Homo sapiens: one gene and its partner. Changing the gene in region 1 together with any one later gene gives a genetic interaction. Each region holds a gene or a part of one and is shown on either strand. Other genes may lie near its edges.

What was found.
Region 2: changes in MPRIP (region 1) and NF2 together harm fitness more than expected from each alone (negative genetic interaction), as found in Homo sapiens cells (one large-scale study listed by BioGRID).

The regions. Positions count from the first base shown.
Region 1 is NC_000017.11:17,157,260-17,161,268, forward strand, and holds part of MPRIP (myosin phosphatase Rho-interacting protein), read left to right. Parts: intron 1-1,172; coding exon 1,173-1,743; intron 1,744-3,980; coding exon 3,981-4,009. UniProt on the Homo sapiens protein: Targets myosin phosphatase to the actin cytoskeleton. Required for the regulation of the actin cytoskeleton by RhoA and ROCK1.
Region 2 is NC_000022.11:29,694,133-29,697,632, forward strand, and holds part of NF2 (merlin), read left to right. Parts: intron 1-619; coding exon 620-670; coding exon of another isoform or gene 671-677; 3' UTR 678-3,500. UniProt on the Homo sapiens protein: Probable regulator of the Hippo/SWH (Sav/Wts/Hpo) signaling pathway, a signaling pathway that plays a pivotal role in tumor suppression by restricting proliferation and promoting apoptosis.

The DNA of each region.
Region 1 (4,009 bases):
TCCTCAGGCAGACCTGGCTTCACTCCACTTACTGCAGGGCAGGTAGCAGCACCATGAGCACGACCTGCGCAGCTCATGTCCCGTTGCTGGCTGCCGCTTGCCTGCTCAAGGTGGCAGGTAACCCAGTGTCCTTCTCCCCTTCTGCCTTCCTCTCCAAGCCTCTGGCTACTGCATGGTGTGAACTCGTGGCCACCTGGGCCTCCTGTTTCCCTCACCCTTAGGAGGTCCCAGTCTTTCATACTGATCCATCTGTCATGCCAGCAGCTGGATTGGGCTTTTAAAACATAGATTCAGGCTGGGCACAGTAGCTCACGCCTGTAATCCCAGCACTTTGGGAGGCAGGCGGATCACCTGAGGTCAGGAGTTTGAGACCAGCCTGGCCAACATGGAGAAACCCCGTTTCTACTAAAAATACAAAATTAGCCAGGCATGGTAGCGCATGCCGGTAATCCCAGCTACTTGGGAGGCTGAGGCAGGAGAATCGCTTGAACCCAGCAGGCAGAGGTTGTGGTGAGCCGAGATCGCGCCATTGCACTCCAGCCTGGGTAACAAGAGTGAAACTCCATCTCAAAAAAAAAAAAAACAAAACATAGATCTGATCACGTTACCTGCTTATTAAAAGGTAAGCCCTTCTAGAAAGTGCTAGTTTTCCCTCATTCTGTCACCACTGTCCAGTCCAGGGGTGCACAGGGCCCAGGCCTCACCTGGCAGGTACGGTGGCTGTGCCCAGGTGCAGCCTAATGTAGTTCTTGGCCCTGAGCAAGGCAGGGCTGGCCCGTCCTGCCTCTGAGGCTGTGGGAGTCCTGGGACTCCCCTGGCTCCATACCCTGGCAACGGGACCACCACAGTGAGCCCCTCACAGCCTCTTCAGTCAAGGGACCCCCCCAGTGTCATTATGTGGGAAACCTCAGCTTTCTGAGGCTCTTTTCCCTTCCTTTCCCCTTCCCCTCCCCGTCCCCCTCCCCCTCCCCCACTCAGAACCAGTTTGGGAAGGGATGTGGGGTAAAGGCAGAGTATTCCTGTCCTCCCTGCACTTAGGAAGCTGGGATTAGGATAGAAAAAGGATGTGGTGCTCACAGGGGCTGGGTTGTGGCTCAGCATTGCCAGCTTCTGCCTGGCAGGCCACACCAGAGCCGCCCCTGACAGGCTATGTCCATCCTCCTGCCCCACAGCTCGTTGCCAGAGGAAAAAAACAAGAGCAGCTGCTCTTTTGAGACCTGCCCGAGGCCTACTGAGAAGCAAGAGGCAGAGCTGGGGGAGCCGGACCCTGAGCAGAAGAGGAGCCGCGCACGGGAGCGGAGGCGAGAGGGCCGCTCCAAGACCTTTGACTGGGCTGAGTTCCGTCCCATCCAGCAGGCCCTGGCTCAGGAGCGGGTGGGCGGCGTGGGGCCTGCTGACACCCACGAGCCCCTGCGCCCTGAGGCGGAGCCTGGGGAGCTGGAGCGGGAGCGTGCACGGAGGCGGGAGGAGCGCCGCAAGCGCTTCGGGATGCTCGACGCCACAGACGGGCCAGGCACTGAGGATGCAGCCCTGCGCATGGAGGTGGACCGGAGCCCAGGGCTGCCTATGAGCGACCTCAAAACGCATAACGTCCACGTGGAGATTGAGCAGCGGTGGCATCAGGTGGAGACCACACCTCTCCGGGAAGAGAAGCAGGTGCCCATCGCCCCCGTCCACCTGTCTTCTGAAGATGGGGGTGACCGGCTCTCCACACACGAGCTGACCTCTCTGCTCGAGAAGGAGGTAATAGCCTGGGACCAGATCCCCACCCTGCTCCCAGCAGCCTTTCCAGAGCATCAGCTGTGCCCAGCTGTGGCCTGAGGGGTTCATCTAGACAGTCCTACCCGCGAGGGACTTGCAGACCCCTAGGGGAGACAGACGCATAGATGAGTCCTCATAGTTGAGGCAGACCTGAGAGCTGTGGGAGCGTGCCAGTGCATGCAGGGCAGGGAAAGGGGCCTTCCAGGCACAGAGGAATTCTTCCGATGGTGGGGGCCCCTGCCATTGAGAGGCAAGCGGCGTTGCAGGGCCTAGATGGTTTCCTCGTTCTGACTCCCGATGGCAGGAGGGGCGCGAGCAGGGCAAGGCTTTTGCATTACGCAGCCCTGGCTTGGACAGGTCAAAGCTGTAGGCAGAGACCAGCCCCAGGTGCTCTTACAGTGGCTTGGGGACGGCCGATCAGATCTGAAGCCAGGGGCATCCAGCAGGAGATGACAGCTGGGTCCTAGGTCATGAGGATATGAAGCAGAAGACAGTGGTGAGGCAGGGTAGGCTGTGGATGAAGGCTGCCCTGTGACTGTCACTCCTCCACGAGGCCTTCAGTGCACCTAGGTACATAGATGAACAAGCTGGCCCCCGAACTATAAAATAAGATGTTCTTTCATGGAAATGTATGCAGAAATCCAGTCTGCAGAACTTCAGTGGTAGATTGACATGTCTGGGCAGGGAGTCTCGTAGCTGGGGAGGTGTAGCGTTACAGTTTTTGTAGAACTCCCTGTTTCACTCTCCATTTAGGGACAGTTTTCAACACTGTGTTTCAAATGTGTTCTCTTACGTAAGTAGCTTGTTAAAGATTTGCCACTTGGGTATGCCTCAAGCTTCTCATCTTTTTTGTATTTTATTAACTGTATGAGGCTGAGTTACCACCAGCACTAATACTTGTACTTTTTCATTTTCCTCATCCATTAACAAGTAACAAAGGCAAGATGAAATAAAATAACAGTTGAAACTCACATTACTTCAGGCTACCAAAATGGGCCAGCCAGCAGGCGACACACTGGCTCAACAATCTGGGGGGTCAGTCTTCACTGTTTAAAAGTCAGGGGTCGGCTGGGCATGGTGGCTCACGCCTGTAATCCCGGTACTTTGGGAGGCCGAGGCGGGCGGATCACAAGGTCAAGAGATCAAGACCATCCGGCCAACATGGTGAAACCCCGTCTCTACTAAAAATACAAAAATTAGCTGGGCATGGTGGTGCATTCCTGTAGTCCCAGCTACTTGGAAGGCTGAGGCAGGAGAATCACTTGAACCCAGGAGGCAGAGGTTGCAGTGACCTGAGATCGCACCATCGTACTCCAGCCTGGCGACAGAGCGAGAGTCCATCTCAAAAAAAATAAATAAAAGTCAGGGGTCTCCCCGCCTCTCACAGCACAGTCTGTCAGCACCCTGGGCGGCACTGGCCTGACTGTCCACCACACACACAGCTCCATTCAGCACGAGCTCTGGGAGCAGGTTGGGTAGCCCTGCACATGGCCAGGCATCAGGAGGCACCTGGGAGGTGTGTAGGGAAGAGGTGGATGGATGAATGAGTAGCTGAAGCTGTTGAAAGCAAGAAGAGTGTAAAATAGCTTACTCATGGGTATCCACACCTTGTTTGAGGGAACTGCGGGAACTCTTTTTGCAAACAGAACTTTGTGGAATCCATCATGTAAAGCTGGTCAAATGGAGTGGTTTCAGTTGAGACCATAGTGGGCCCTGGAGTGAGGCCTGCTTGGGGCCACCACTCACAGTGGTCCCTGTAGAGCCTAGCCTGGCCTGTGTGACCAGCTGAGGACACCCAAAGGACCCCATGGGGTGCTTCCTCCAGATGCAGATGCAAAACCCTTGTTCCCCAGTGGACACATTCCCCTTCTCAGAAATGAACACCCCGTATGGGCCTTGGCACCTATATAGGGCGTGCATGTTGGAACCTTGAGCAGGTGTGGGAAGTATGTGGGCATCCAGGGGTGCCTGGAGTAGGGAAGGACAAGGTAGTCCCTTGGTGCCCATAAGGTACCAAGTCTGCCATTGTTACTGATGGCTTGCATTGGAACCTTCACTTCCAAATGCTGCTGGTAAAGGCCATATCAGCACATCTGCTGAAATGTGGAGACTCCAAAACTCTTGGGCCACATGGAAGACCAGTGAAAGAGTCTGTGCTGTGCAGCTGCTTTGTTTATCATTGTCATTTTGCATAAAAGTGTGTGTCTTTTTGCCAACAGCTGGAGCAGAGCCAGAAGGAGGCCTCAGA
Region 2 (3,500 bases), on another chromosome or scaffold:
CACAAGCCACACTGAGAAAGCCGTTGCCTCCAGCTCATGGAGAGAAACACCTTCTCAGCTGCCACGTCATGAGCAAGTTTGCTTCGGGACCACCTGGGAAACCAGGAGTAGAAGGGGTAAACTCTTCCTCATCTGCCACAGGCCTGCCTTGCCTCAGGCCACGTCACCTTACCCCAGCCATGTTGCCAGGGCATGAGGACTAAGATGCTTGCCCTGCCAAGCCCGGAGGGGATGAGCAGCCTCAGCTGGTGCCGCCACAGACAGCACACCACAGAGGTGGCTCAGGGACCTTGGTAGATGGGAATGTGAGAATCTATTAAAATAGGCAGGGATCTCCGGTCCTCTGTCAAGAGGCAATGCTGACGGCTTTTTCCTGCTGGCGTGCCTCTGCCCACCAGCCTTCCCCTTGCACATCCTCATTTGTCACCTCCTAATTTGAATTATTGGGCAAATCTGGCCGCTTATTTGGGACTGACAGCCAACTTCTTGAGCATCTATTTGAACAGCCTTCCCTTTCGCTCCCAGCCACCTTTGAGGTGAGTCCAAGTGGCAGGACAGGACCCTGTGTGACAGAGCGGAGGTCTTGTGCCCTCTCAGCTTCTTCTCTGCTTTCTTACAGCTCACCTTGCAGAGCGCCAAGTCCCGAGTGGCCTTCTTTGAAGAGCTCTAGCAGGTGACCCAGCCACCCCAGGACCTGCCACTTCTCCTGCTACCGGGACCGCGGGATGGACCAGATATCAAGAGAGCCATCCATAGGGAGCTGGCTGGGGGTTTCCGTGGGAGCTCCAGAACTTTCCCCAGCTGAGTGAAGAGCCCAGCCCCTCTTATGTGCAATTGCCTTGAACTACGACCCTGTAGAGATTTCTCTCATGGCGTTCTAGTTCTCTGACCTGAGTCTTTGTTTTAAGAAGTATTTGTCTTCCTTTGTCTAATGTGGGATTCCTGACTCCCTTCGTCCAAGGCACCGGTGTGTGTGTGTCTTGCACTCCAGAGCTGACCTCCACCGCCCAGCCTGGGAAGTCATTGTAGGGAGTGAGACACTGAAGCCCTGAGAAGCCAGTGCCATCATCCCCACCCCGCCCAGGGTTCCGGAACATTCATTCCCCCACCGGTGAGGACCTGGCATGCAGCGAAGCAGCCCAGCCCGGCGGATCCCAGGCCAGCACGCCTGCCGGCTTCTCATCGTCAGGGAGCCCGCCCAGAGCTCGTGACGAGCAAGTGCTGGGTCCCCGCCAGGCACCCCGAGGCGGCGCTCTGGCTGGCAGCTGGTGGGGAATAGGCAGGGCAGCTGTGGCTGGGGAGAGACTTTAGGCAGAAGCTGTGATGCAGGCTGACTGCCAGCCGAGGGGCTGGGTAGTGCCGTGCGGGAGCTGATGGTACAGGGCACTCGCTGTCCCCCTCCGGCCACCCTAGACCAGGGTCCGAGAGGCAGGCAGGAGCCACTCATGTCTTCCCCATTGCCCGACGCCCATAGACGCTCCTTCCTGTGTGGGGCTGGGGTACTCCCTGGTCGTACTGCAGTCAGCACCCGTAACCCGGCTATGACCAGGGATCTGTAAGCCCTGTGGCTCCACAGGTGCTGCTTCTCACTGGCCCAGACTCTGAGCTCCACCGGCCCAGTCTGCACGGCCCATCTGCTTCACCTTCCCTCCCAGCCACGTGCCAGTGGCCACAGCCCACTTCCCAACCCACTGTTGTACCCAGGCCTCACTTTGCTGTTGCCCTTGTCCCTCTTCGGGCCCTGAATTTTCTGTTCCCTGGGGGCCAGCCAGGGCCCTTTGTGCCCCTCCCAGCACAGGCCTGATGCAGGTGTCCACTCACAGGTGGCGCTCACCTAGGCTGTCACAGGACCCACCTCCATGCCAGGCAACAGAGGGCCACAGAACCACCCCCACGGCTCACTCCTTGGTCTGGGGCCACCTTCTTGCCCTTTCTTTTTTTTTTTTTTTTTTTTTTTCCGAGATGGAGTCTCTCTCTGTCACCCAGGTGGGAGTGTGGTGGCACAATCTCGGCTCACTGCAACCTCCACCTCCTGAGTTCAAGCAATTCTCCTGCCTCAGCCTCCCAAGTAGCTGGGACTACAGGCATGCACCACCACACTTGGCCAATGTTCTGTATTTTTAATAGGGACGGGGTTTTGCCATGTTAGCTAGGCTGGTCTCAAACTCACACCTGGGATTACAGGCATGAGCCACTGCACCCAGCCCCTTCTTGCCCTTTCTTTTCTCCATGGCTGATGCTGCTGTGGCCAGCCAGGGCCCTTGAGATCCTTCCAGTTTGGCTGTTATGCAAAGCAGGTGATTTGTCTTAATCAGATAAAAGATAGAGGCTATGGGGGCCTCAAGATTTTTGGAGAGCAGAGGTGGTCTCTGGCAATTCCATCTGGTTTTGAGAAACTTAGCAGCTCACAGAGCACAGAGATCCTGCCTTCTTCCTACTATCAGGCTGACCTAATGGGGTTGGGCTGCTCGGCAACTGCTTGGGTCACCTTGCCCCAAGGAAACCAGCCCTGGGTGCCACCCAGCCACTTAGGGTCTACAGGGTGGGACTCCAGACCTAGAGCGTAAGTATGGATGTTGTGGCCCTGTGTCTTCCTAGTGTGACCCAGCCAGGAGCGGAAGCTTCAGGCGTTTGTAAAGTGAGGTCTGGCTCTGCCTCCTCCGTTTTTTTTTTTTTTCTGTTTCTGTTTCTGTTTTTTTTTTGAGATGGAGTCTCGCTCTGTCGCCCAGGCTGGAGTGCAGTGTCACGATCTCAGCTCACTGCAACCTCCGCCTCCCAGGTACAAGAGATTCTCCTGCCTCAGCCTCCCGAGTAGCTGGGACTACAGGCGTGTGCCACCATGCCTGGCTAATTTTTGTATTTTTAGTAGAGATGGGGTTTCGCCATGTTAGCCAGACTGGTCTCGAACTCCTGACCTCAGGTGATCCTCCCACCCCGGCTTCCCAAAGTTCTGGGATTATAGGCGTGAGCCACCATGCCCGGTCTCTTCTCAGTCTTGAAGCCCATCCCTGGATTTCCACCAGGAGTTACTTTCCTCCTGACCTGTAAATTTGTTCTTTAACAATGGCTGCAGGTGGGAGCATATGGTGGTTTATAAAAACGCTGTCGGGCTTTGTTTCCTTCTTTAGCTGCCGTGTCTACTTCTGAAGTCTGGGAAGTGCCAAGCCACGCGGCCTCAAGGGAGCTGGCTGGTGTTTGAGCTGTGGCAGAAGCACCTGGGGCTCCAGGGAGCAGGCTGGGAACTGCAGGACCTTGCTCAGCCAGGAGCACTTCCCCCTCCTTGAGGCAGGAATACTGAGGTGCCTCCCCACAGATGGAGAAGGTGGAGAGGAGGATGGGCCTCAGGAGCATCTCAAGCCCCAGTAGCAGGAGAAAGAAAGAAAGAGATGCCTGGTTTTCACAGACTGGTTCCTGTGGCTGGGATGACTGCATCCTTTTTTTTTTTTTTTTGAGACGGAGTTTTTGCCTTTGTCGCCCAGGCTGGAGTGCAATGGCGTGAT